Homo sapiens: one gene and its partners. The protein of the gene in region 2 purifies or fractionates together with the protein of the main gene of each other region. This does not show direct contact. Each region holds a gene or a part of one and is shown on either strand. Other genes may lie near its edges.

Evidence for each region.
Region 1: the proteins of ERGIC2 (region 2) and NOC2L purify together in Homo sapiens (co-immunoprecipitation; one large-scale study listed by IntAct). This does not show direct contact.
Region 3: the proteins of ERGIC2 (region 2) and CIAO2A purify together in Homo sapiens (co-immunoprecipitation; one large-scale study listed by IntAct). This does not show direct contact.
Region 4: the proteins of ERGIC2 (region 2) and PCDHGB4 purify together in Homo sapiens (co-immunoprecipitation; one large-scale study listed by IntAct). This does not show direct contact.
Region 5: the proteins of ERGIC2 (region 2) and RAMP3 purify together in Homo sapiens (co-immunoprecipitation; one large-scale study listed by IntAct). This does not show direct contact.

Annotation. Positions count from the first base shown.
Region 1 is NC_000001.11:944,928-950,179, reverse strand, and holds part of NOC2L (nucleolar complex protein 2 homolog), read left to right. Parts: intron 1-1,576; coding exon 1,577-1,690; intron 1,691-1,947; coding exon 1,948-2,049; intron 2,050-3,634; coding exon 3,635-3,778; intron 3,779-3,893; coding exon 3,894-4,007; intron 4,008-4,526; coding exon 4,527-4,662; intron 4,663-5,033; coding exon 5,034-5,123; intron 5,124-5,252.
Region 2 is NC_000012.12:29,363,007-29,368,981, reverse strand, and holds part of ERGIC2 (endoplasmic reticulum-Golgi intermediate compartment protein 2), read left to right. Parts: intron 1-694; coding exon 695-741; intron 742-2,034; coding exon 2,035-2,105; intron 2,106-5,975. UniProt on the Homo sapiens protein: Possible role in transport between endoplasmic reticulum and Golgi.
Region 3 is NC_000015.10:64,082,721-64,088,695, forward strand, and holds part of CIAO2A (cytosolic iron-sulfur assembly component 2A), read right to left. Parts: coding exon 5,967-5,975; intron 1-5,966. UniProt on the Homo sapiens protein: Component of the cytosolic iron-sulfur protein assembly (CIA) complex, a multiprotein complex that mediates the incorporation of iron-sulfur cluster into extramitochondrial Fe/S proteins.
Region 4 is NC_000005.10:141,501,381-141,507,355, forward strand, and holds part of PCDHGB4 (protocadherin gamma-B4 isoform 1 precursor), read left to right. Parts: intron 1-4,012; coding exon 4,013-4,101; intron 4,102-5,975. Other genes in the region: PCDHGA1 (protocadherin gamma-A1 isoform 1 precursor), read left to right, coding at 4,013-4,101; PCDHGA2 (protocadherin gamma-A2 isoform 1 precursor), read left to right, coding at 4,013-4,101; PCDHGA3 (protocadherin gamma-A3 isoform 1 precursor), read left to right, coding at 4,013-4,101; PCDHGB1 (protocadherin gamma-B1 isoform 1 precursor), read left to right, coding at 4,013-4,101; PCDHGA4 (protocadherin gamma-A4 isoform 1 precursor), read left to right, coding at 4,013-4,101; PCDHGB2 (protocadherin gamma-B2 isoform 1 precursor), read left to right, coding at 4,013-4,101; PCDHGA5 (protocadherin gamma-A5 isoform 1 precursor), read left to right, coding at 4,013-4,101; PCDHGB3 (protocadherin gamma-B3 isoform 1 precursor), read left to right, coding at 4,013-4,101; PCDHGA6 (protocadherin gamma-A6 isoform 1 precursor), read left to right, coding at 4,013-4,101; PCDHGA7 (protocadherin gamma-A7 isoform 1 precursor), read left to right, coding at 4,013-4,101; and 11 more. UniProt on the Homo sapiens protein: Potential calcium-dependent cell-adhesion protein. May be involved in the establishment and maintenance of specific neuronal connections in the brain.
Region 5 is NC_000007.14:45,180,928-45,186,362, forward strand, and holds the end of RAMP3 (receptor activity-modifying protein 3 precursor), read left to right. Parts: intron 1-2,229; coding exon 2,230-2,485; 3' UTR 2,486-3,323; downstream 3,324-5,435. UniProt on the Homo sapiens protein: Accessory protein that interacts with and modulates the function of G-protein coupled receptors including calcitonin gene-related peptide type 1 receptor (CALCRL), calcitonin receptor (CALCR) and G-protein coupled estrogen receptor 1 (GPER1).

The DNA of each region.
Region 1 (5,252 bases), on a different chromosome or scaffold from region 2:
ATGCACGTCTGCTTGTGTGTGCCTGTGCGTGTGTGCACCTGTGTGCATGTACGTGCGTCTACGTGTGTGCCTGTGCATGTGTGCGCCTGTGTGTACCTGTGTGTATGCATCTTTGCACGTGCACATGCCACTCAGGTAGGGAAAGATTGGAGTCCGAAGTTTCAACTTTCAGTGGGTGGGTTAGGCCCCACCCCGCTGTAAATTTAGGAATTCACGATCTCCACCCTGTTTATCTAATGAGTTCTCAGCCTCATGAAGGCCCAGAGTCGTGTCACAGCTGTCCTTGGGGCTGGGTCCCCAGGTTGCTGGGTCCAGAAGGTATGGAAGCCCCAGGCACGTTCTGATTCCCCTTCCACTGAGGCAGGGATGCTGAACATCTTTAGGAAGCCATGTTCACTCCCATGGCAGCCAGCAGTGGTCTCTGATTGCCCAGCCCTTGGCCTGGCCCCTGTGTCTGTGGGCCTCCAGCTCTGCTGCCCAGCTCCAGGCATGCTTTGTGTCTGTTTCCCTTGTCCAATCTCCTTGGCTACGTGCTTTCTTACTCTCTTGCAGTGTCTGTTTCTTCACTTGTGCACTGCCCTGGTTCACTGCAGCCGCACCCTGTAGGCCCCTCTCACGCAGGGATGCAGGCCTCTCCTCTCCGGAAAAAGCAAACCCTAAAAGCTAAAACAAAGCCCTCAGCTGTAGGCCGTGCCTGCCCTTCCCCGGTGCCTGGACAGGAAGCCAGTCGCCTGCCCATACTTTTGGCCCAGGCTAGAGAAGGGCAGTGTCCTCCCAGAGGTTCATCAGTACCAGGGCGTTTTCCCATCTGGACCTGAGCTCAGCTGTCTGGCAGCCACCCCTGCTGAGTGGGGTGTCTTGCTGGGGCCTCCACCCTTGGGCCCCCCATAATCTGCTTCTGTCCTCTGGTGCCCCAGCATGTACCCTGGATCTCTCTGGTTCACAGCCTGAGGGCTCCTAGTGGTTGGGGAGGGGTCACAAGACTGAGAGGCCAGGCTGACTCTTTCTCTGCTCCTCCTGGCATGTCCTACGGAGGTGCATGGCCTGTGGCTTCTGTGGAGGGTGTGGGAGGGGCCCCCCAGGCCTCCCGTGACCTCCATCTGTCCCGTCCTGTGTCTGGCACTCTTTGCTGTTGCTGCTGCGTCTTCTGGTTGCTCGGGACGGAGCCCCATGTGGCATTGCTGTGCTGAGGGCCAGGATGGGCCTCAGTGCCATGTTGTCAGGAATGGGGGCTGTCCTGGTACTCTGTGTGGCAGGGACCTCTAGGTCTCCAGACGTGGGTCCTTAGTGCTTCCCAGGATTTTGGGAGAGGGCCCGTGTTCCTGATCCTTCCCTGCTGATCAGAGCCCCACTCGGGGACACGCCAGGCTGTGTGGGGCCATGGGGCTGGGACCGTGCCTAGCTGCTTATCTCTTGTTTCGGGTTGGGTCTCCTCGTGCTGAAGCCTGAGGACCAGGGTGACCAGGGTGCAGCCAGGTGCAGGGCCAAAGGGACCAGGGGGACCAGGGTGCAGCCAGGGTGAAGCCAGGGTGACCAGGCATGGGGCCGAGAGAGCCTGACACGGCCCTTGGGGCAGATGTTCCAGCAGGTCGACTTCAACAGGAAGCCAGGGCGCATGAGCTCCAAGCCCATCAACTTCTCCGTGATCCTGAAGCTGTCCAATGTCAACCTGCAGGAGAAGGCGTACCGGGTGAGGCTGGCCTCCTGGGGAGGGGCCTGGGCAGTTCCCAGGGTGGGGTTGGGGGTGCTGAGGTGGATGGGAGGGGGCTGGCATCCTCCAAGTTCAAGCATGGACCTTCATGGTCTCCCAGGGCTGGGGCCCAGGAGCCCCTTCCTTGCAGTCCGTGCCCTGGAGATGGCGCTGCCCTGACAGCCTGAGGGGAAGGGGCCTGAGTGCCCAGCCCCAGCCTCTCCCTGATGCACTCGGCCCTCTCTCCTGCTCTTCAGGACGGCCTGGTGGAGCAGCTGTACGACCTCACCCTGGAGTACCTGCACAGCCAGGCACACTGCATCGGCTTCCCGGAGCTGGTGCTGCCTGTGGTCCTGCAGGTGTGTGTCCTGCCCACACCGGCTCGTGGCCGACTCAGACTGTCTTATAACGGGCTTGGCTGCCCCAGGCTGGTAGGAGGTGCCCTTGTCCCGGGTACCTGGGACTGGGGTGGAACCTGACTGCTGGCAACGCGCCCCGTGAGGCCCCCTTGGAGGGGCTGATGAGGGGTTCTAAGCCATTCAGGAGGTTTGGGGGCAGGCCTGGGCAGTGGGCTGAGGACCCTGGGAGCACAACAGCCTCCTCCCCAGGTGGGAACCACAAGGCTGATCTTTGCTTCGGGGTTGGGACTGAGCATGCCGACCCTGGCTCAGGCTGGTACGCTGATCGCACACTTCCCCAGGCCATCCCGGGTGTGGGGAGTGGGTGGAGTGGCTTCTCAGGTGGCAGGAAGGCCTGGCCTGCCCCGCCAAATACCCCACATCAGCCTCATAGGAAGGCCCAGCCTGCCCCGCTAAATACCCCACGTCAGCCTCATCTTAGGCAGGAGTGGGGTGGAGGAGGGGGTTCTCCTTATCCTCAGAAGGTCCTTCTGGGCCCCCACGGGAGGTCTGTTTGCTCTCAGCCGTGATGTTTCCAGCCTCAGGGAGGCCTGTGCCTAGTGGAAGGGGTGGGGGCCCTGCTGTCTGGCCCTGGTGGCTGGAATCAGATGTGCCGACTATAGGTCTGTGCAGTGTGGGGAGGAGGGATCTGCTCACATGAGCCACAATTGGTCAGAGGCTTATCCAGATAGAGGTGTGTGCATGTGTGTGTACTCACACACGGCCACACATGTCACATGCACAGAGCCGGGACCCCCTTTCTGGGGGGCACTCACAGCAGGGGCCACAGCCTCTGTTCCTCCCATGTCCTCTTGGGTGGTGATACCTGGCATTGGGGCATCTCTGCTTCTGGACTCAAGGGCCCAGGGTCGGGGTCTGGGGTAGGGGTCAGAAAATGTTTTTGGTGAGGGGCCAAATGGTAAACGTGGCTTCCTACGGATGTTCAGCTGCACAGGCAACTGCAGAACCATGCAATGCACACGTGTGGCTGCACGTCAGCGAGACTGTATTTTATTAGTAGTAGTAGTATTGTTTGAGATGGAGTCTCGCTGTGTTGCCCAGGCTGGAGTGCAATGGTGCGATCTCGGCTCACTGCAATCTCCATCTCCTGGGCTCAAGCGATTCTCCAGCCTCAGCCTCCCAAGGAGCTGGGTTTACAGGCGCCCACCACCACACCCAGCTAATTTTGGTATTTTAGTAGAGACGGGGTTTTGCCACGTTGGCCAGGCTGGTCTTGAACTCCTGACCTCAGGTGATCCACCCGCCTCAGCCTCCCAAAGTGCTGGGATTACAGGCGAGAGCCACCACGCCTGGCATAAAACTTTATTTCCAGAGGTGAGTAGTGGGCAGGGTTGGCCCAGAGGGTGGGCTGATTCTGCCTCTGCCATCCCAGCTGCAACAGCTATGCACTTGAGCCCTGAGATGGGATCCATGTCCCCTCCTGGGGTATCCCCGTGGCCACCACGCGTGGTTTTGCACAGGACCTGGGCCAGCTGTGCACATGGAGCGGTCCTGGGCTTCAGTGGCTGACCCCTCCCTTCCGCAGCTGAAGTCGTTCCTCCGGGAGTGCAAGGTGGCCAACTACTGCCGGCAGGTGCAGCAGCTGCTTGGGAAGGTTCAGGAGAACTCGGCATACATCTGCAGCCGCCGCCAGAGGGTTTCCTTCGGCGTCTCTGAGCAGCAGGCAGTGGTTAGTGGGCCCTGGGGGTAGTGCCACCTGAGGGCACCTGCCAGGGTATAGCCCCAGCTACATGTGGGGGTTTGCCCAGGGTGAGGCATGACCCTGAACTCCCCCAACCCCCCAGGAAGCCTGGGAGAAGCTGACCCGGGAAGAGGGGACACCCCTGACCTTGTACTACAGCCACTGGCGCAAGCTGCGTGACCGGGAGATCCAGCTGGAGATCAGTGGCAAAGAGCGGGTGCGGCTCGGCGAGGGGACCTGGGGGTGTGTTGTGACTTCCTGGGTTTCAGATCTAGCGCACTATGACTTGAGACCAGGGCGAGGGTTTGGAAACAGTGCCAGGCGGCCAGGGCCGTGCCCGGATGATTCGACTTGGAGAGGGGGTAGGTGTTGGAGAACTGGCCAGAACCAGGCGTTTCCAGGGAGGGGAAGCCCCAGGCTGCACTAGGTTGGGGAGGCCATGCCCCCTCAGGCCTGATGGGCTGGAGGCTCCGGGCAGGTGGAGTGGCTGGACTGACCTCGTCACCCAGGCCAGTATGTGGGCACCAGGGGCCCGTGAGGAGAAGCAGGAAGGGCTCTGCCTTTGACCTTGGACATGGGATGGACAACTTGGAGGATGGCTTTGTGATTTGGGAACAGAGGGGACTAGAAATTGGCCACATGGGGCCCTGGTGGTGGGTCTGGCGATGCCTGGCCCTGCTGTGGCCGCCAGCCCCTGCCCTCTCTCACCTGAGCCCCTGGTTCTTTGGCCTTCCAGCTGGAAGACCTGAACTTCCCTGAGATCAAACGAAGGAAGATGGCTGACAGGAAGGATGAGGACAGGAAGCAATTTAAAGACCTCTTTGACCTGAACAGCTCTGAAGAGGACGACACCGAGGGATTCTCGGAGAGAGGTGGGGCCTGCGTGGTGCTCCCAGGGGAAGGGTGGGCCTGGAGGGCTCTGCTGGACTTCCCAGAGCCACGAGGGCCACCTGTACCCATCCTGCAGGGGGCTCACCAGTCTCTGGCCCAGCTGGGGCCAACCTCAGTGTTGCCAGGCTTCTGGTGCCAGCGCCTTCCCTCCTTGAAGTGAAGGCCTACTGGGATTGGTAACTCTGTCCCCAGGCCTGTGACCTCCCAGTTCCTCCCCAGGGCTCCTCTCCACCTGCTGGAAGTCAGCGGAGGGAAGGGTGTTGGGAGCCTGGCCACCCTCCTGCCCCCACTGTGACTTTGCTGGTGGACCCTGTGGGTGGGAGTCATATGGACTCTGCTTCTTGTTCCTCAGGGATACTGAGGCCCCTGAGCACTCGGCATGGGGTGGAAGACGATGAAGAGGACGAGGAGGAGGGCGAGGAGGACAGCAGCAACTCGGAGGGTGAATGGTCTTGGGGTGAGAGGGTGTGGCCCTGTGAGCCCATCTGGCGGGAGGGCAGAGCCACGTGGGCGGGGGGCGTGGGGCTCTGGGCCAGGCTTTTCCCTCCCTGGGAAGGCCAGGCCAAATGCT
Region 2 (5,975 bases):
ATGCTTCATTCTGGTATTCGAAAATTGCTTTGATCTAATCATTTGAAAATGAAAGGCCATGAAAAATTTTAAGCATCAGGTGATTTACTTTTGGTAGTTTGGTTGCATTTATCCTGAGTTACATAGACCTAGTTTCCAGTATGCCACTTTAATGGTGATGTGATCTTAAGCCAGGTATTTACACTACCGTGAACACCAGTGGTTTACTTGAAAATCTGTGAAGCCATCCATTTATAGCTCCATGATATAGAATAAAGGAGATAATATTTGTAGAACATCTAGCATCATGCTTAATATATGGTGTTTGATAAACAGAGAAGAAAGACAATTCCTAATTCTTGATTTTGAGAGTTTTACATTCTTAAAAGAACATTCTATCAAAAGTTTATGTAAATAGAGATTAAGAGGTTAAGACTTTTTCTGAGTTGCTTAGAGTTATTGATTATAGAGTTGCCATTATTAAAGGATACTGTGTTCAAAAACCTGTGAAGTCAGAAAGGCTTTTGGAATAAGGGCAAAATAGAACTTGTAATTTAAAGAGCCTTTGTTTTGGCCATGAGAAATGCAATTCAAGTTCTAATCGACATAATTTATTCTGCTTGAAATCCAAGTTTTTAATAGGTCAGTTGATTTATATTTCTCATGTTTTGCTAATTAATTGGTAGGTACTAATGTTTAATATTTTGTCTTTCAGCAAATTAAGAATTAATATAGATATTACTGTTGCCATGAAGTGTCAATGTAAGTACACCTTCAACTTGCTGAATCCACATGTAGGTTATGGTTCAAACAATTGCCAAGCAAAAATAAAAATCACTGGTTGTACTTTATTTTTCCTTTATAATATTTTAAAGTTTTACTGTGGTATTATTTAATAATACAAATTGTTTTACTCCTCAGCTTATATTCTTCAAGTTTCTTTTCCATAAAGAGAAGAGATAAAACTTTCACATTAGTATAATTAAAAGAAAGTTGGAGGAAATGTTTGTGAATCAGCATTCTAGTTTATGTACATCCTTTCTGTCTTTTTTTGTTTGGAGTACTAGCTTTTATACCCATGTTTCACAAGCATATCCTTGTGTCACTGTTTCAGTTTACCACCTTTTATGTTTACTCTTGCGTTTAAAAATACAGATCCAGTTATTTTAAGTTAATGGTGATAGGTTACCCTTTTCTTTTTTCGTCACTGGACTCACTTGGTTATACTAATAGAAGTGGAAAAATGCTAATATGCCAGATAGTGAATGTTTGAATCAATACTGTTTTCAAAAATAAGAATGCTTTTGCATGAAAAATATTTTATGAGTTACTGCTTAAAAATTACAGACCAAGAACTCAGAGAAAATTTTTACATTTTTAAAAGTATGAAATAATTTTACCCAATTAATTAGAGGTTATTTTCTGTGAGATTCTATCTCAGAACGACCTTGAATCTCTTTCTTTTCAATATGTTTTTCCTTATGTTGGTGGTTTTAAGAGATAAAAAAATACTTTATTTTTAAACTTGTAGTTAGTGGTAATTCTGAATATATGATATTCTGCCTTATTTTGGATGTTTAAATACTGTTAAATTTTAGCCTTTTCCGAATAAAATTTCCTATTTGTTGATTTGTAGCATAGCTTTACGATTTCTTTTAATCTCTAAAAATATTTCTTGGAATTAATATTTTGTTCAGCAGCCACTTAGTACTTGTGATTAGGTTCTTGCCGATATTTGCAAAGCTCTTCAATTCAGTGACGCTTATCCTTTTTAAATGAGATCTTGAATTATCTTTTTTTTTTTATTGGGTAAGAAGTTTTTTACTGGGTAAGAAAAAACATTATTACATTTTGGAATAATCTCCACCTAAGCTATATAAGGCTACTGTTTTAGCTTTTGGACAAATATATCGGAAATTATTCTACATAGTTGGTGAGGTTTTTTTTTTTTTTTTGCTTGGTGAGTTTTCTGTTAGTTGGCTTAATTTGTTTATATTGGGGATGGTTTGCCTCCAAGCATAGAATGTAAAACTTCTAATTCTTTTTTCTATGCAGATGTTGGAGCGGATGTATTGGATTTAGCAGAAACAATGGTTGCATCTGCAGATGGTTTAGTTTATGAACCAGTAAGTTTGATTCACATGGTTTTTTGAAATACACGGGTTGAGGAATCGTACGCTTGAAGACAGATAGTTGCTTTTAGTTTTGTCTGAAATAGTTTTTAGTATAATTCTTTTATTTCAAAAGTAATCCATATTCTTTGTAATAAATTTAGGGGGAAAAACAGAAAAGTTATATTATATACCAAAATCTTGAGGTGACCATTATTAACATTTTGGATGTATTTTGGATGTGTCTAAAGTCTGTTTTATAACCTTTTTTAATATTTTTGTTATTACTTTCCAGTAGTTTCCTTTTCACTTTTCTTCTAGTTATAGTGATGAGTTTTTTTCTTTTTCTCTAGTAATTTGGAAACTTTTATGTCCTGTTTGTATTCTACTATGACCAAATTTAAGTATTTAAAATATTTGAACTGTATTTCTCTTACAATCAAGAATAAAGTAGTATCTTTCTAAGAGGAGAAATGTCATGGGCATTACTACTTCCTTCCTCCTTTACGCCTCTATTTCCCTCAGCGTGTGAAATGCTGACATTTTCTTATTATCTTCAGAGCACAAGTTGAATATAACATCGTAGATTTATCAGAAAATATTGTCACATTTCAGTGGCAGATACAGTGATAACGAGTCATGATCAGAACTAGCCCTAAATAAGCTTTCGAGAATAAGCATGAGGCCCTCAGCAGCTAAAAGTTGCTCTGTTGGCATGGTGGTACTTAAATTTACGCATGCGTTCTTGAGTTCCTTTTCTTAATCATTGACAATTGTGAACCTTTCTTTTAGCAAATTTGCAAAGTGAAGAGTGAAGGTGAAGGAGGGGGAGTAGAAGTGACTGAATGTATGGGGTTAAAGGAAAGAAAATGAAGTCCTTGGCCAGTTTTGATTATTGAATTAATTTTAGTTTACAGCTACAAACTTGATATGTGCCTTTTGACATATACATTTTAAATAGAAATTTCTACAGAAACAGTAACTTTTGTTATTGCCACTCTGACTCTACTTTCTGACTCGTTTTCCCACTCAAAAAATCGATTTTGAAGTAATTTTTTATGAGCTTAGTTACCTTACAGATTCATATATGACAGCATATTACACTATTATCTGCTCATTTTGATCTAAGTGATTATTATTAGATATTTTAATATTTGTATTACATTTTATACTATCTTAAGAATACTTATTTAACTTTAACTTTGTTTTTTTTTTTTTAATTTTCTGCCATTCTTACCTTATTTTTGTTTATCATTTTGAAGAGGGACTGTTTTTTCAACTTTTAGTTTAGATTCATGGAGTACATGTGAAGGTTTGTTACCTGAGTATATTGTGTAATGCTGAGGTTTTCAGGTTATGATTGATCCCATCACCCAGGTACTGGGCATAATAACTAGTAGTTTTTCAATCCTTTTCCTTCTCCCTCCCTCCCCTCTCTAATAGTCCCCACTTTCTGTTGTTGCCATTTTTATGTCTATGAGTACCCAGCGTTTAGCTCCCACTTATAAATGAGAACATATGGTGTATGGTTTTCTGTCCTGCCATTTATTTGCTTAGGATTATTGCCTCCAGCTGCATTCATGTTGCTGCAAAGGATAAAAGTTTCTTCTTTTTTATGGCTGCATAGTATTCCCTGGTGCATGTATACCACATTTTGTTTATCCCATGTACCACTGATGAGTACCTAGGTTGATTCCATGTATTCGCTATTGTGAATGGTGCTGCAATAAAGATCAGAGTGCATGTGTCTTTTGCATACAATGATTTATTTTCCTTTGAGTATATACCCAGTAATGGGATTGCTGGGTTAAATAATACTCTACGTTCTTTGAGAACTCTCCAAATTGCTTTCCACAGTGGCTGAACTAATTTCCATTTTTACCAGCAGCATATAAGTGTTCCCTTTTCTCCACAGCCTCTCCAACATCTTTTTTTTTTTTTTCTTTTTGACTTTTTAGTAATAGCCATTCTGACTGGTGTGAGATGGCCTCTCATTGTGGTTTTGATTTGCATTTCTCTTATGATTACTGATATGGAGCATTTCTTCATGTTTGTTGACCACTTGTATATCTTTTGAGAAGTGTGTGTTCATGTCCTTTGCCGACTTTTTAATGGGGTTGTTTTTTACATGTTCAATTTATTTAAATTCCTTATAGATTCTGGATATTAGACCTTTATCAGATGCATAGTTTGTGAATATTTTCTCACATTCTGTAGGTTGTCTGTTTACTCTGTTGGTAGTTTTTGTTTTTGTTTTCTGTGCAGAAGCTCTTTAGTTTAATTAGCTCCCACTTTTCAATTTTTGTTTTTGTTGCAATTGCTTGTGGGGACATAGTCATAAATTCTTTCCCAAGGGTGATGCCCACAATGGTGTTTTCTAGGTTTTCTTCTAGGATTCTTATAGTTTAAGGTCATTTAAATCTTTACCCATCTTGAGTTAATTTTTGTATATGGTGAAAGATCTGGGCCCAGTTTCATTCTTCTGCATATGGCTAGCCAGCTCTCCCAGCACCATTTATTGAATAGAGAGTCCTTTCTCCATTGCTTATTTTTGTTGATTTTGTCAAAGATCAAATGGCTGCAGGTGTGCAGCTTGATTTCTGGATTCTCCATTCTGTTGAGGGGGGACTTTTTGAGATTTATTTTACAGCAAGAATGTGTAGGTATGTTTTATGGATTCTAGCATGACTGCCTGTATCTTCTGCTATTATCTTTTATTACCCATTTTCTCTGTTGCTCTGAACTGGGAAAATCCCTTTCACATGGGTTTTTCTATCCTATGAAATAAACTTATTTTGTGCTCTTTCTCAATTTGGTTTCATTTGTATGTTGTCTTGTATAAATTCATGAAAGTTTACAGCATATGAATATTAATTTAAAATGATTTAAGATGATAATAAAGGTTGCATCCTCATTTTTATGTTTCTTTTGGATGCTGAGAATTATTGTTTATGTATTATAATCTTGAATGTATCCTCTAAAAGTCACTTACACTGTTTCTCTAGCATTCTGTCCATATTCTAACTGTTGTGGTCACTCTCTTTTTTTTTTTTTTTCACATTTATGAGATGCCTGATGCTATCTTTTTTTTTCCCCCTACATCTCTTATCTTTCTAGCTGGATTTTAAGCTCTTGAGAATCATTAATTTCATTCTTTCATCTTTGTAGTTCTCAAAATGCATTGCAAAATGCTTTGCAGATTTTAGGCAATAGTGATATGTTAGAATTAAGCAGTTGGGACAGTATTGTTGACTGTTTTCATTGTAAACAGTTTCTGCCATCTCTTCTAGTAGTTTATGGAGCAGGAAAATTTTATTTAAATTGTTATAATTAAAAATTGTATCTTAATGAGAAAGTTAAGAACTTCAAAATATTTAATTGTATACTTTTCATTAGTAATATTTAAAGTGTTTAACCATGCTTTTAGGAAACTATTCATTCCTTTGTGCTAATTTATATAAAAGTGTTTAAGAATTATTTTTAATATAAAATTATTAAAAATATCATTTTAACTTAAAAATTTTTCACTCATTATTTTAATATGCACTCTGAATATTAAAAACCTAGCCCTGATAACTTTACTAGTTTACAAGCCATGATCATACAATATGCTATGATAGTTACTATTCTGCTATTTCTATTGCATTTAGTTACTATTTAAAGACAAGAAGAATTTTTAAAAGGTGGGAAAGTAAGAAATCTGACAGAGCTGAATTTGTGTATTGGTTGTTACTTACTATCTGTGATTTTGGAAAGTTTGTAACTTTTTGAGCTCCTGCTTCCTCATGTGCAAAAAGGGAAGAGGAGTAAAAAATTCACGAGGTGGTTAGGAAGGTTAAGTGAGATAATGAATTAGCATAGGGCCTACAAAGTAGTTTCTTTATA
Region 3 (5,975 bases), on a different chromosome or scaffold from region 2:
TAGTCACTATTGGTAGGTGTTTTACAATTCGCAAAGCACTTTTTTGAGCATCATTATCCTCAAGAGAGGTAGTACAGCATAACTGAGATACTTTGGGTTTCAAAAGTAGCTTCACTACATACTCGCTGTGATCCTGCATAAGTTACTTAACCTCTCTGAGCTTCAGTTTCCTTATCTGCAAAACAGGCATTATAGTATCAGCTGGGCAAGGTGGCTCATGCCTGTAATCCCAGCACTTTGGGAAGCCAAGGCGGGAGGACTGCTTGAGCCCAGGAGTTCAAGACCAGCCTGGGCAACGTAGCAAGACCCCATCTCTAAAAGTAATAATAATAATAATAATAATAAAACTTAAAAATATATATAATAATATCACAATATATAGGGTTGCTATGAGGAATAACCTGTTATGCAATGTGTTTAAAACAGTACCTGACACATAAGTGTACAATAATAGTATAAAAATAATTACTATAAATAGTAAAAAATAATAGTATAAAATATTACTATTTTATACTATTTTATAATTTTCATTTTACAGCCAAGAAACCAAGGTAGGTGATTTAACATTACTTAGCTAACAAGTGGCAGAGGTAGAACCCAAACCTACACCTTCTGACCTCCAAACCCTAAGACCGTTCCCATTGGACCACAGCTGCCTTCAGCCATTCTTATCTGGAATAAGTCACCACAAATGATTATCAACTTGTTTCCCTGCCTTACCCTCTTGTTCCCTTGGAGTCTTCCTTGTCAATCACTTACCAAGGTAACATTGAGTAGGTGATACTCTTACTCAGGCACCTTTCCAGGCTAGGACTACCTGCTCTGGAGGAATATCTGTTAACACATCAGACAGACGAAGGCTTCTCTCAAGTTTTCCAGCTGTGTTGACTGAACAAAACTACTATGATACACTATTATACAATTCTCTAAAAAACCAATAGGCCGGGTGTGGCAGCTCACACTTGTAATCCCAGCACTTTGGGAGGCCGAGGTGGGCGGATCACTTGAGGCTAGGAGTTTGAGACTAGCCTGGGTAACATGGAGAAACCCCGTCTCTATTGAAAATACAAAAAATTAGTTGGGCATGGTGGCACGCGCCTATGATCCCAGCTACTTGGAGGCCGAGGCACGAGAATCGCTTGAACCCAGGAGGCAGAGGTTGCAGTAAGCCAAGACAGCACCACTGCTTTCCAACCTGGGCAACAGAGCAAGACTCTGTCTCAAAAAAAAATAAAATAAAATAAAATAAAAATAAAAAATAAAAAGCCAATGGTCTTAGCTGAAATGCATAACGAAAGGGCTAAGACAAAACTTTCTACAGGAAGTGTACAGATCTGAAATATCAACTATAATCTAATGTTAGCACCCTTACAGAACAGTTTTTATTTCATGCACTCTCCTGATATTTGTCCACGTACACATTTTTCTATAACTGCAATCATGATGCAATTTGAACTTATTCAAGCTTTTTCATGTTTTTTTTCTTTTTTAAGAGATTGCTGGTTTCAAACTCCTAGGCTCCAGTGATCCTCTCGCCTCGGCCTCCCAAAGTGTTACAATTACAGGTGTGGGCCACCACGTCTGGCGAATATTTTCTTCTATAAAATTAGTTCCTTAACTCCTGCGTCAAACAGTATAAACTTCCAGATAGGGATTTACCAATATATACCATGAGGCTTCAAAATACTTACATAATCTAACCCAATTATTCCACGTATAGGAATTTATCCTGATGCAATAATGAGATATATAAAAATATTTATATAAGGCCAGGCACGGAGGCTCACCCCTCTAATTCCAGCACTTTGGGAGGCCAAGGCAGGCGGATCACCTGAGGTTGGGAGTTAGAGACCAGCCTGACCAACATAGAGAAACCACATCTCTATTAAAAATACAAAATTAGCCAGGTGTGGTGGTGCATGTCTGTAATCCCAGCTGCTTGGGAGGCTGAGGCAGGAGAATCGCTTGAACCTGGGAGGTGGAGGTTGTGGTGAACCAAGATCATGCCATTGCACTCCAGCCTGGGCAACAAGAGTGAAACTCCGTCTCAAAAAATAAATAAATAAAAATATTTATATATAAAGTTGTTCGGTCAGGCGCGGTGGCTCACACCTGTAATCCCAGCACTTTGGTAGGCCAAAGAGGGCAGATCACTTGAGGTCACAAGTTCGAGACCAGCCTGGCCAACATGGTGAAACCCCGTCTCTACTAAAAATACAAAAATTAGCTGGGCTTGGTGGAGGATGCCTGTAATCCTAGCTACTCGGGAGGCTGAAGCGGAGAATCACTTGAACCTGGGAGGTGGAAGCTCCAGTGGCCACTACACTCCAGCCTGGCCAATAAAGTGAGACTCTGTCTCAAAAAATAAAATAAAATAAAATAAAATAAAATAAAATAAAATAAAGTTGCTCATCACAGTATTATTTATAATTGCAAAAGGCTAGAAGTAGTCCAAATGGTTACAAAACTTCTGATGTACCAATATGATTAGCATGTAACCTATAACTATATAATTAAAGAATATTTAATGATGGCCAGGTATGGTGGCTCATGCCTGTAATCCCAGCACTTGGGGAGGCTGAGGCATGAGCCCAGGAATTTGAGACCAGCCTGGGCAACATGGCAAAACTAGCCAGGCATAGTGGCACCTGCCTGAAGTTCTAACTTTTCAGGAGACTGAGGTGGGAGGATCACTTGAGCCCGGGAGGTGGAGGCTGCCTGCAGTGAGCCGAGATCGTGTCATTGCATTCCAGCCTGGGTGACAGAGTGAGACCCTGTCTCAACAACAAAAAAAATTTAAAAAAAGAAATATTTAATGAGAAAAATAATTCATGTATTTCATGCTATTACTTAACTCTTACGACTCTATAGATATCCTTATTATTCCTGTTTTACAGATAAGGAAACTGGGTCTTGGAAAGGTTAAGTAACTTGCCGAAGCCCACAATACGGTACAGCCAATAGACCTGGAATTTTAGCCCAGAGCATATATTCTTTTTTTTTTTTGAGACGGAGTCTCGCACTGTAGCCTGGGCTGGAGTGCAGTGGCGTGACCTTCGCTCACTGCAACCTCCGCCTCCCGGGTTCAAGCGATTCTCCTGCCTCAGCCTCCCACGTAGCTGGGATTACAGGCGCCCGCCACCACGCCCAGCTAATTTTTTGCATTTTTGGTAGAGACAGGGTTTCACTACGTTGGCCAGGCTGGTCTCAAACTCCTGACCTCATGATCTGCCCGCCTCGGCCTCCCAAAGTGCTGGGATTACAAGAGTGAGCCACTGCACCCAGTGACATTCTTTCATAATAGCTGGTTTTTTTCTTTATGTTTTTGTGGGGTATCAAAATTACTGCCAATAAACATGTTACTCATATAATTTAAATAAATGTTAATTTTAAAAATGAATTTGCTGGCTGGGAGTGGTGGCTCACACCTGTAATCCCAGCACTTTGGGAGGCCGAGGTGGGCAGATCACCTGATATTGGAAGTTCGAGACCAGCCTGGCCAACATAGTGAAACCCCATCTCTACTAAAAATACAAAAAAAATTAGCCAGGCATGGTGGCGGGCGCCTGTAATTGCAGCTACTTGGGAGGCTGAGGCAAGAGAATCGCTTGAACCTGGCAGGCGGAGGTTGCAGTAAGCCAAGATTGCACCATTGCGCTCCAGCCTGGGTGACAAGAGTTAAACTCCAGCTCAAAAAATAAATAAATAAATAAATTTGCTATAGGTTCTTGAACTCTCCATTTAAGAACTCTTTCTTATATGTCAAAATATTTTAAGACACCCCCTCCACAACACCCACAGCAGTACTTTCAGTATCTGTTCGTTCACAAATTGTCCAATGACCAAAAATAACCATGCATTCAGCATTCAGTAATGCTTTTTCTAGCAATGGGATTTTTTTTTTTTTTTTTGAGACAGAGTCTTACTCTGTTGCTTAGGCTGGAGTGCAGTGGCGCAATCTCAGCTCACTGCAACCTCCACCTCCCATGTTCAAGCGATTCTCCTGCCTCAGCCTCCCGAGTAGCCGGGATTACAGGTGCGTGCCACCATGCCCAGCTAATTTTTGTATTTTTAGTAGAGATGGGGTTTCACCATGTTGGCCAGGCTGGTCTTGAACTTCTGACCTCAAGTGATCCACTGCCTTGGCCTCCCAAAGTGCTGGGATTACAGGTGTGAGCCGCCATGCCAATGGGAATTTTTTTTTTTTGAGATGAAGTTTTTGCTCTTGTTGCCCAGGTTGGTGTGCAATGGCATGATCTCAGCTCACTGCAACCTCTGCCTCCCAGGTTCAAGTAATTCTCCTGCCTCAGCCTCTCAAGTAGCTGGGATTACAGGTGTGTGCCACCATGCCTTGCTAATTTTGCTTTTTTTTTTTTTTTTTTTTTTGGGAGATAAGAGTCTCGCTCTGATGCCCAGGCTGGAGTGCAGTGGTGCAATCTCGGCTCACTGCAAACTCCGCTTCCCGGGTTCACGCCATTCTCCTGCCTCAGCCTCCTGAGTAGCTGGGACTACAGGCACCCGTCACCATGCCTGGCTAATTTTTTATAGTTTTAGTAGAGACAGGGTTTCACCATGTTACCCAGGATGGTCTCCATCTCCTGACCTCGTGATCTGCCCGCCTCGGCCACCTAAAGTGCTGGGATTACAGGCGTAAGCCACCGCGCCCGGCCTAATTTTGTATTTTTTTTAGTGGAGATGGGGTTTCACCATGTTGGTCAGGCTTGTCTCAAACTCCTGACCTCAAGTGATCTACCCACCTTGGCCTCCCAAAGTGCTGGGATTACAGGTGTGAGCCACCACGCCCGGTCACCAATGGGATTTTAATAACCACAATAATACCTATGGATTCACAGACCTCCAGTCCCTCAAGATGTGGCCTATATGGTGGAAACCACCAGCAGAGGGAACCCAGGTCAACCAGTGAGAAAAGACAGAAATCACAATAGTGGAAATAATAACGAAATAGCGACCTTTTCAATCTTTTTTATAAACTTGTTGCTTTTTAATAGGTGAGATAGTCCCATGGTTTGAAAATGTAAAAACATAAAAAGGTATAAAGTCTCCCTCCCACCCTTTCCCCCATCTGCCCAGCTCCCACCACCACTATTACCCGCTAACACCCTTATAGCTATTCATTTATGTATTAATATTATTCAGGCATATGCAATCAAATACAAATGTATGTTTTTGCTTTTTTTACACAAATGATAGCAAAATGATACTTGCTTTTATTTCTTAACAGTATGTCATAGAGATCTCTCCATATCAGTACATGCAGAGCTTCTTCATTCTTTTTTATAGCTGCATAGTATTCCACTGTTTATATTCACCATCAATGATTATTTAATCAATCCCCTACTCATGAACATTTGGTTTGAAATAAAATCCCTTTATAACAAAGCATATGTTCAAATACATTTATTGTACCTGCTAACAAATCCAAAATACTGGGAATCCAACCTCCTACCAGGACTTCTACCCATACTATGTAGAAACCAGAAGAGTCACTGAAAGGAGATGGTGATGGAAGCAATGCTAGTCTGACACCACCCACTCCAACCTCCAGAACTGAGGAAAAGCACTGGCCCACATGCACTCTCCATTAATTGTGGGCATATATACCTGGGAGGGGCAGCCTGACATAACTAAAGGAGAAGTGGAGTCAGGAGACCTGGGTATGAGCCTTAGTTTCACCATTTCCTGGCTACCTGATTCTGTGCAAGTCACTTAAACTCTCTGAGCTTCAGGTTCCTCATCTGCAAAATGAAGATAATAATATTTTAACTCAACAAGCTAATTGTGAGGACTACAGAAGATGAATACACGAACATACTCTGTAAACCATAAAGTGTAATACATACACTGTATGGTTTTTCAACAATGATGCAAATTGTTATTATGGGTCAATATCAGCAAGAATAACTTAGAATTTATATAAATATACATGTATGTACAGAAAAACTTACCAATAAGAG
Region 4 (5,975 bases), on a different chromosome or scaffold from region 2:
TAGGTCCTGTCACAGGCCACTGCTTGGAAAATAGTTGACTAAATGTAGTCCATTTCTTCCATTTTTACTTTTCACTATTCCCCAAATCCTGGAAGAGTCCCTCATATCTGCTGCTGGGGCTCCAAGGCCTCCAAGCTGAAGCCCAGTACGTTGTTGTGCATAAGATCATAGGCCCTGGAATCATATTAGGCTGGCTTTCAGGTTGCAACTCTACCAGTTCCAGCTGTGTGACTCTGGTATAGTCTCTCAACCTCTCTGAGCCCTGTTTTCATCTGTTGGAAAATATAGATAATCACAACACTTATCTGCAGGGTGATTCCGAGGATAAAAAAGACAAATATATTACCCAGTCAGCTTAGAATAGGAAGCTCTCAGTAAATGGTTAAAAAAGAGGTCTCTCTCCCTCTGCTCATCTCTTACCCAGCTTCACATAATTGGCAGCCCACCCACCTGTTTGGCCCTCAACCTTCAACCATTTCCCAGGACGCCTCCTTACACTCCTGATCATCATGGTTCCAACCCCACTGTTCCACTCAGCTTTGTTCCCTCAACACCACTGCTCCCTGTGACAGGTCATCCTCCTAACCTCTGGCATCTGGTCCCGTTGTCTCCCTGACAACCCGCATGCTCTCCTCCCTGCAACCCCCGCCGCTTGCCTGCTCTCCCTACTTTATTCCCATTAGCCCCCTTCACCTGGGGCTGAGAACACCTGGCCTTGACCCTGCACCCTCAGCCAGGCCCACAGAGCTCAGTCGGGCCGGAAGTAAGGACCCCAGATATTCAGTTGAGGAATTTAACATTAATACAATAATATAGAATCCACCAGCAGATTTTCATAAATGTTCTGTGTGTTCTTTTATCCTTTTTTTTAATCCAGGATTTTATCAAGGAGCATAGATTGCATTTGGTTGTCACGTCTTTCCTCTCCTTTAATCTGGAGCCAGCTCCCAGTCTTTTTATTTTTTTAATGACATGGATATTTTTAAAGAGTCCAGGCCAGTTGTACTTTAAAATGTCCCCGAACCTGGATTTGCTGGCTATTCTCTGATGGTTAGATTCAGATTACACACCTTGGTAGGAATACTTCCCGCAGCATCACACTGGGACTCATCTAACGTCGGCCTGTCCCACTATCAGTGATGCCGAGTTTGTTCGTGTGGTAAAAACAGTGTCCCAGATCTCTCCATTATAAAAATATATTTTTATAAAGATATTTTAAAATATTTGTGAAAATATAAGTAATCTGTGGATGATACTTTGAGATAGGCAGCAACCCTTCATGCAATTTTAGTATTCCCTGATGATCCTTGCCTGTATCTGTTTTTACATCAGTGATTACAAAGCGGTGATGTTCTGTCATTCCTTCTACATGTATTTGCTGGTATTCTTCTGAAAATTACCTGGATGATTTCTTCAGATTTAAATTCACTGTCTTTTCCTTGGGGAAGCCTGGACTGGCTGAGCTGCCTAACCCTGACTCTCTGTCTTTTTTTTTTTTTTGACAGGGAGTCTAGCTCTGTTGCCAGGCTGGAGTGCAGTGGCAACCTTCACCTCCTGGGTTCAAGCGATTCTCCTGCCTCAGCCTCCCAAGTAGCTGGGATTACAGGCGTGTGCCACCATGCCCGGTTAATTTTTTTTTTTTAATATCTATTTTAGTTGAGACAGGGTTTCACCATGTTGGTCAGAATGGTCTCGATCTCCTGACCTCGTGGTCTGCCCGCCCCTGCCTCTCTTCATACCCTCTGGTAGCCCCTGACACAGCCCATGGCAAGTATCACAATTGCAATTACTCTATTGTGTAATTATTTAAAATCAGCCTCTCAGTGCCCACCATGAGCACCGTAAAGATGGACAGTTTCTATCATACTCACAGCCACAACCCCAGCACCTGGCTCTGTGTCTGGTACATAGAAATTGCTCAAGAAAGAATTGTTGGAGGGGCGCGGTGGCTCACGCCTGTAATTCCAGCACTTTGGGAAGCGGAGGCAGGTGGATCATGAGGTCAGGAGTTCGAAACCAACCTGGCCAATATGGTGAAACCCCATCTCTACTAAAAATACAAAAATTCGCTGGGCATGGTGGCATGTGTGCACTTGTCGTCCCAGCTGCTCAAGAGGCTGAGGCAGGAGAATCACTTGAACCTGGGAGGCAGAGGTTGCAGTGAGCCGAGATCGCGCCACTGTACTCCAGCCTGGGTGACAGAGCGAGACTCCAGCTCAAAAAAAAAAAAAAAAGAAAAAAGAAAAGAAATAATTATTGAATCAATGGAAACAGAATTACAACTCTTCCCACTTTTGGGAAGGAGAATTGAGATTCCTGCTTTCCCCTTCAACCCTAGCTTTATGTTTGTTGTGATGGTATAGAGGTCACACATGGCAGCCTTGTGTCTGTTCTTAGGCTGAGTTCATCTACTTAGGGACGGGGAATCCCAGATTGGGCAAAACCAAAAGCAGGGACAGACCTTGGAAAAATTGTAAAGCAGTTCTTGGTTGTGCTCACCCACCATGACAAAATATGCACACACACAACGCAACACACACACAGACATTTTCATGCCTTCAAGGCCTACCCTACAGCCTTTCCCATGGTGCCAAACCCTTCTTCTTACCTTACAGTCACTTAACTGTCTCTGCTGGTCTCTTCCCACTCATTTAGGCAACAAATATTTATTGAAAAACTTCTCTGAGCCAGATGGTGCCAAACAGTTACCTAAAGGGCAGACTGTGTGTGTGCCAGGGCTGTTTCCCGCCAACACTCCCCTGCAAATTGAAATAATTTCATCCTTGGAAATTCAAAAAAATCATGAAAATTGTCACTGTGGGAAAATTCCAAGTAGAGCTGAACCTTCTAAGAAGCAGAGAGTTCTTCTTATGGTTTAGTATTTTTTTAAATTATGAATCATTTCATGTTTTTTCAACACTCGGAGTTTCTAAAAGTCTCACTTAGGTCCAAGTGCTAGGCTTTGTGCTAGGTGCTTCAGTAGGAAGCAGGTGGAGTCGCTGCCTCACAGAAGCCAGTGTGGTGGAGGAACAGACAGGCACTACAACAGCTGCAGTGTGACTAGTGCCATGTGGGGCAGCCGCTGGGATGGGAGTACAGTGGAGGCACCTGCCCAGTCTGAGTGGATCTCCTCTGATATATTTTATTCGTGTCATCATGGCAAATGTTGGGGGACTGGCATTCTAGGGAACACCATCTGCCCAGGATTCACAGCAAGAGGGAACTTGAGGGATAGGAAAGTGCACCTTGGAAAAGGTTTGATGATAGAGTGTTTGAGGGCGGGGGGTGGGGGTTCTTGTAAAATAGGAGGGGCAGGTTCTTCTATGGCCGTGGATTTTACTCTGAGGGCTTAGGAAGCCATTGAATTTTAGAAATTTCTTCTCCCTGCTCCAGGGTCTCTTGGGGCCTCCTACATCTCCCCCTAGGTACCTCCTAGGTCCCCACTTTTTCTCTAGCTCTGGAACATTCTCTTCCATTTCCCACCTTCACAGTCCTCTGGAGAAGGTCTGATCTCCCTCACTATGACAGGAAGCCAGGCTCTCTCATGGTGGGTGGGGGAATGCACTATGTTCAATGCATTGGACCAGCCTGGCCAACATGGTGAAACCCCGTCTGTACTAAAAATACAAAAATTAGCCTGGCACAGTGGCAGGTGCCTGTCATCCCAGCTACTTGGGAGACTGAGGCAGGAGAATCGCTTGAACCCAGGAGGTGGATGTTGCAATGAGCCAAGATCGCGCCACTGCACTCCAGCCTGGATGACAGAGTAAGACCCTGTCTAAAACAAAAAGAAAAAAGCATCGGAGGCAGCAAAGAGCTGGTTTGAGGGACTGACTTGTGGGATTCTGGCTTCTGAAGGATTGTAGAAGTGCCTCCTACCTTGCTGAGAGAAACAGGTCTTGGGCATGGGGTAGGGTTAGGGTACTAGGTTTGGGAGCCCTGGGAGAGGACAGGAGGGGCATGAGCTGTGCCGGCCTGGGAGTCTGTGCTCACCATCCTACTCTCTCCCCAGCTCCCAAAATGGCGATGACACCGGCACCTGGCCCAACAACCAGTTTGACACAGAGATGCTGCAAGCCATGATCTTGGCGTCCGCCAGTGGTAAGTGGTGTCAGTGTGTGTATGGAAGAGTGGGAGACCTGGGGTTCTGGGGTGCATCTCACAGCCACCATGCCCACGGACTGGATGTCAAACCTGTGTAGTTTCTCCAGATCTTTCGGCAGGTCTGAAAGGACCCACAATTCCAAACATAAAGCCTGGAATTGTGGCTAAGGAACAGCAGAGGGGTTGGGGGTCCTGGGATGCCTGGAGGAGAGCGAACAAGGAAAAGACTCATGGAGGGAATAGTGGTTACAAGTCTAGCTCTGGAATGGGACAGTGTAGCTCAGGTCCTAGCTCTGCTACTATCCTTGGGACTTGGATCGACTTGCTCAATCTCTCTAAACCTCAGTTTCCTCAGCCTAGAAAGTGGGGACAGGGACCCCAAAGGGTTGTTGTAGAGATTAAATGAGATGATACCACAAAGCATAGAGTTCTGGGCCTGGCGCTTGGAAGCCCTCAAGCAATGAAAGTGGGTGTAGAAATCCCCAGCCGAGAGAACACCTCCTCTTTATGCGAGGCTCCTCTTTTGCTGCCCCTAACTCCAGAGTAGGATTCTGGTTTTCCCATAAGGTTGACTAAGGGCTTCCTTTGTAATAGAGATTCGGCTAGTGGTGGTTGTCCCTGAAGAGTCACTAGGGCCCAGAGCAGGAGAAGAAGAATATCATTTGTCCTTAAGAGCACAGCCTAAGCTGGGCGTGGTGGCTCACGCCTGTAATCCCAGCACTTTGGGAAGCTGAGGCAGGAGGATCATGAGGTCAGGAGTTCGAAACCGGCCTGGCCAACATAGTGAAACCCTGTCTCTACTAAAAATACAAAAATTAGCTGGGCATGGTGGTGCGTGCCTGTAGTCCCAGCTACTTGGGAGGCTGAGGCAGGAGAATCGCTTGAACCTGGGAGGTGGCTGTGGTGAGCAGAAAATCGCACCACTGCACTCCAGCCTGGGCAACAGTCTCGCTCTGTCTCAAAAAAAAAAAAAAAAAAAAAGAGCACAGGCTTTAGAGGCAGGCCAATCTGGATTCAAATCCTGGCACCTGGCACCACCACTTAGCAATGAGTCCTTAGGTAAGTTATTAAACCCCCTCGGTTTCACTTACTATTAATGGGCACAGTATTAACGGATCTCATTGTGGTGTTACCAGGGCCAAATGCAAGTCCCTCAGCACAGGATTGGCAGAGAGTAAGGGCACAATATATTATTATCTTTGCTGACCCAAACCCGTTTTTTACTGGGTAGAAAGCAGAATTAGAATAATGCCTATTAATAAAGACTAGCTTCTGGAGCAGCAAATCCTGGGCTTATAAGGAGGCTGGCAGAGGATCAAGGCATTGCCCTATATCATGAACTGATAGCCCTGCCCTCCAGCATGTCTGGAGGACTGGTGGGTAGAGAACCAGGTGAAATCACAAGAAGCACTGTCATCACACCTGGGCACATACTAAACAAACTTTAGGGGCCTCCTGTCAATGAATCCTCTCAATAGCTCTGCAAGGCAGGTCTGATTTCTCACACTCGACAGATGAGAGAACCGAGAAGGCACTTGCCCCAGGGTCCTCAGTTTTGAGCTGCCAAGCTGAGGTTCTAACCTGGCTCAACTCCTAAGTTTATGCTCTTTCTACTATAGGGACCATGGCTGCCTTTGGATCCAGCCTCGGCTTCTCTATTACCTGAGCAGGATGAGAGGCTGTCCTCTTCCTCGAGCTCTGCTTTATTCTTCCAGATCAGGGTTGCCAGATAAAATACAGGATGCCCAGTTACAGTTGAATGTCAGATAAACAGCAAGTACTATTTCAGCATAAGTCAGTCTCAAATGTTGCATGAGACATAATGTACTAAAAAAAAAAATGCTCATTGTTTACCTGAAATTCAAATTTAA
Region 5 (5,435 bases), on a different chromosome or scaffold from region 2:
GCACTGAATGTGGACCTCTCTAGATATGTGACAAAAATGCAGATTTTGTGGATCCACAGAGATGGGTGCTGTGCTCAGCTCTGCCCCAAACCTAACAGCTGGGGTGGGCTCACCCCATGACCTCCTCTGTGCCAGGCACTTGCTGGGGCACATGGACCTCAACTCATTTGGTTCTCTCAACCACCTGATAGGATAAGTGTTATTAAACCCACTTACAGATGAGGAAACTGAGGTCCAGGGAGGATAAATGACATGGCCCATACCACAAAGATGGTGAGTGGCTGAGCTGGAGTTGGAGAGGCCCTGCCATGTTGGCTCTGCAACCTGAGCCTGAAGCCACTGTCCATGCTGTCTTCTGGGATTACCTCTGCTCCGTGGGCTTCTCCATGTGGCCTAGCTTTGGCTGGGAGTGGGGTTTGGGAACAGCAGGGGCTTTCAGCCCTGCCTCACCTCCTCTTGGGACGGTTCTGGGGCTAGACATCACTCCTCTTGCCCTGTAGACTCGCTGTCCACAGAGGGTCTTCTCCAGGGTCTGTCTGGCTCATCTCAGCCCTGGGGATGGTTGTTGGGGGGTGGCATTCCTGGGTAGCAGTTCAGTGGAATGACTTTGGAGGCACAGAGGTTACCGCATGTGATTCTCATCACACACATAGATGCTGGGAACTTCTGAAGGTGAAGGCTGTTGCAGGGTGTTGTTAGACGGCTCCCCAGCTCCTGGATCAGCTGGCGGGGGGTTGGGGTGGACAGCAGGCTACTGAATCTGAGGCCCTGTGGGAGAAGCAGGTCAGGGAAGATGAGGGTTTGTCCATGGACCTAGCTGTTGAGGTGTCTCTAATGCCTGGGCATGTCTCAGGTGCTGCATTGTGGCTGAGGCCCAGGAGAGCCAACAGCTTTGTACTTGGATTCGAGGCTGTTTCTTTTGCTCTGGCTGTTCTCTGCTGACACTACCTGGAAAGGCACAGGTGTGTGTCTGACCTACATTCCAAGGTGCTGAGAGCCAGCCTTGGATCAGTCAGGAGCTGGGCTGAGTGACTGTACCTGGGCTTCCCAGACCCTTCCTGGGGCATGGGGTTGGGAGACCAGGAGAACCCTGGGTGGAGTAGGTCAGAGTCCCTGTTTCCTACCCCTTTCTGATGCTTTGGGAAATCTACGCCCAGATGATGTTCCATGCAGGAGGCAGCTCTTTCCTGTTGATGGGCCAGATCAGTGGCTCCCTCCTGGGACAGCGCGGGAAGGAGGAGATGGGCTACTTTCCCATGGGGAAGCCGAGGCAGGACCCTTCACACTCCTGCATCTGTACTCATGCAGCACAGACGTGGGGAAGTGCTAGCCCTGCACAGAGGGGGTGGCATCTGGGCAGGAGTCCATCTAGCTTCGTCTAGAACATCCTGAATGAGTGGCTGCCACTCTAGGCCTTGCAGACCCCAATGACAGGGAGGTCATCACCTCCACAGGCTGCCCATTGGAACAGGTGGTGGCTGGGAAGTCCTTTATGCTGAGTTGACCTCTGGGTCTTGGTGGCTATAGCCCTTGGTCAGCATGAGGACTGTCCAGAGCCTGTGCTGGGCGGTCATGGAGCATCATGGGTGGTTTGCTGAGTGCCCTTCCCATCTTTGATCTCATGGACAGGGGGACCCACAGGAGGGGGCTCCACATGTCCTGCTAGATGGGGCTGAAGGAGGCAACTTCTGAGTAGGAGATGAAGAGGCAGGGACTGGGGCTCACAGGTCTGACTCCCACTTGGCCACCACCTGGCACATGAGGGCAGGCTGACTTGATTAGGAGGTGGCTGGCCCCTGGCCTCAGAGAGACCCTCCTCTCAGGCTCTTAGGGTATCCTGGATGATGAAGGCTTTGCAGGTCCAAGCGGCTGTGATCCAGGCACCCTTTGGCCCTGGAGAAGCATGGCTTGGTGTGTCCTCTGGGCAGACCTGCGTAGTGCTTAGAGGTCCAGGGAAGCTGGGCTGAGACCCTGGATCCTGGGAGCTCATGGCCTCAAAGGCAGCAAGTCATGGTCATTGTGATGCAAATGTGGGCAGGGGACACAGGGAATGGGTCATGGGCACAGATGACCCTGTGGCCAGAATGGGGATTTTCCAAGGCTGGGCTGTGAATAGGTGGCCAAATGGGACTGTACCCAAGCCACCCCACCCATCTTCCTGGCCTCAGGTCAGGGCAGGTGTGAGGGGGGATGGCGAGAGCCTGGCTTTCACCCCCTCTGCTTTTGCAGGTACTATGAGAGTTTCACCAACTGCACCGAGATGGAGGCCAATGTCGTGGGCTGCTACTGGCCCAACCCCCTGGCCCAGGGCTTCATCACCGGCATCCACAGGCAGTTCTTCTCCAACTGCACCGTGGACAGGGTCCACTTGGAGGACCCCCCAGACGAGGTTCTCATCCCGCTGATCGTTATACCCGTCGTTCTGACTGTCGCCATGGCTGGCCTGGTGGTGTGGCGCAGCAAACGCACCGACACGCTGCTGTGAGGGTCCCGGTGAGATGGAGTGGGTCACACCTGGCAAGCTGGAAGAAAGTTCCCTGGGGATGGGAGAGCGGGTGGGTGCTGCCAATCTCCAGCTACTGTGGCCACACCCCACCTGGTCATGGGCAGACCCCTCCCTTCCTGGGCTGACCTGCTCCCTCGAGGCCAGCCTGCTCCCTGGCTGAGGCTCAGGCTATCCGCCCAAGCTCTTTGCTCATTCTAGGGCCAGTGGAGGAAAATGTGATAAGGCCAGAGCTTGTGTGCTGGGCACAGAAATCACCTGCTGCATCCTGTGCTCCGCAGGCTGGGCCGGAGCCTCTGCCCGCAGGTTTCTATGCTGTTTCTTAGCACAGAATCCAGCCTAGCCTTAGCCGCAGTCTAGGCCCTGCTTGGACTAGGACTCCTTGCTTGACCCCATCTCTGGTTCCTGCCCTGGCTCCTGCACCAGCCCCAGCTCCTGCCTACATCCAGGCAGAAAGATAGGCAGGGGCTCTTGGAAGACGTTCCGTGCTGTGACCTCCGAGCCCTCCTGGTGGGAAGACAGCTGGAAAGGCTGGGAGGAGAAGGGAGGGGCTGGGGGTTCCCAGGAGCCATGCGTGGCCTGCAGAGTCCATTCCATCATGATGCTGTGCCCGCTATGGGCTGTGTCCATGACCAGAGGCTGGAGTGGGGGTGTGTTAGAGCCCCTCACCGGGACTTGCTGTGCGGATGGGGCCTGGGCCTCCTTCCTACAGGGGCTCCTCTGTGGGTGAGGGGCCCTCTGGAATGGCATCCCATGAGCTTGTGGCCTCTATCTGCTACCATCTGTGTTTTATCTGAGTAAAGTTACCTTACTTCTGGAATTTCCTGTTTTGTTTCATGTTATTCAGAGAGACGGTGCATCTCTTGGGACTGATGAGTCCCCTGTACATATTGTACAGATAGGGAACAACTGAGGTTCTGGAATCCCAGAATGTCAGCGCTTAGGGGGCTCAGAGAGTGTTACAATAGGAGAGGGGCCTGACAGGAGGAGGGACTTGCCTAGCTACTCGCAGCCCCTTGGGCACTTCCCATCCCTGACCCATTGGTTTGAGGATGACAGGGAAGATTTCTCTCTCTTCTGTTTTCCCTTTGCAGCTGCCTTGGGCTTGCTAGGACCCCTGCCTGGGTTTTCTGGGGACCGAGAGGCCCTGGTCAGGTCTGGCTGGAGGCAGATGCTGGTCCTGGGGGGTCCCTAGAGCAGGTGGAGGGGCTTTATCTCCAGGCCTCTGGCCAGGCCCTTGTCCAGGCTCCAGTTCTGTGGACCTGTGTCTTTTGCATGTGGGCTGTTGGATCCAGGATCTTCTTGCTGGATCCCAGGACCCCTGTGAGTGGAGGCAGGCACGACCCTGGTAGTTCCTCTGCCTTTAGAGGCCCAGCTCCCCTTCAATGCCCAGGCAGGCAGGTTCTGGCACTGGGGATCTGCATGGTGGATGCCACTGGACCGGAGGTCTGGGTGGGTGGCCTGAGCCTGACCCCATTGGGGGCACAGTGTAGGGGACAGAATCTGAGTCTACTCCATGTTCTTGGGGCAGCCTTGGCCGGGCATGAAAGGTTGCGATCCCCATCACCTGAGCCTTGGCCAGCTATCTCTGAGATGGGACACCATCTGCCCGATGAGGTGACTGTGTGGAGACAGGGAGGTCAGCGTGCCCACAGGTGTCAGGCCATCTGGCCTGCAGTGGTGGCTCTGTGTTCAGTGGATCCTGGGGTCTCTCATGGGGCCTCTGTGTAACTTGCTCCCTCCAGCCCATTCCGATTCCAGAACCACTCTGCACTGGGTTCCTGGCTGCTATGGTAGAGGTGCAGCCCTGCCCCTTGGCTAGTGTTAGGCACCCCCTGGTTGTGCATCCCTGAAGAAATGCTTGAAATGTGCTGAGGGAACCCCCCAACAAGGGGCTGGGACACCTGCAGCTACCTCCTGGGTCCCCTGGAACCCAAGCCCTGGAAGCTGCTCTGAGTAGGGAGTGAGCCTGGAGTCATGCTCTGGCCTCCTCCCAAGCTCTTGGGCACTGTCTTCTGATCTGCTACCTCCTCCCTGAGGACAGAGGTCCTGGGGGGCCTGGTGAGATTTCCGTGAGGGTTTGGATTCCTGGGGATGGGGTCCAATGAGGGGTGTTCTGGAGGCTTGGAGGTCCCAGGGCAGGGCCCTCAATCACTGTTTCCAGGCTAGGTAAAGCATCAGGCTCTAATTCAGTCAGATGCTGCTCTTGCTGAGTGCACTCTGGAGACAGCTTGAGTTTTTCTGCGATGCAAACTCCAAACTCGGCAGGAGTTTCAAGCTCCCTCACCAGGGACAGGGCCGGTGGGTGCAGCTACACTGCTGTGTGGGCAGATTGAGGAGTTGGGTAGGGAGCCAGGAGGCCTGTCCACATAACCCTGCAGAGGCTCACAAGGCAGGAAGGGACATCAACATTTACTCAGCCTTGATCAGGTGAAAGAGAAGTAATTATTCAGGCAGTAAGAGGATATCTATTCATGTTTCCTATTGGAATCTTCTTTCAATTTTTACTTCTCCATGTGTTTTCTCCAGGGCACCAAGGGTCTAAGGTGCCAGGCCCACAAAGGGAATGTGCTTGTGTGGGTGTATGTGTGTATGTGTGTATGTGTGTATGTGTGTGAGCGTGTGTGTGAGGGTGTATGTGTGTTGGTGTGTACATGTGAGTGTGCGTTGGAGGCAGCAATAGTGTGTGTATTCTAGGAGCTTCCTTATCTAAAAGTCTCTTACATTTCATCAGTTTACGCAATCATTATTAATGTCTCATTTTGCAGATGTGGAAATTGAGGCTCAGAAATGTAAGGGGACTTGCTGAAGAGTGGTCTTTTATATTTTCCTGGCCTGCTGCCCTACTGAATCCAGCCCTGAGAGGTGACAACTGCCTTGAGGAGCCCCTCTGGACCCTGGACCTGCATGGGTTTCCTCTGGCCAGAGCGGG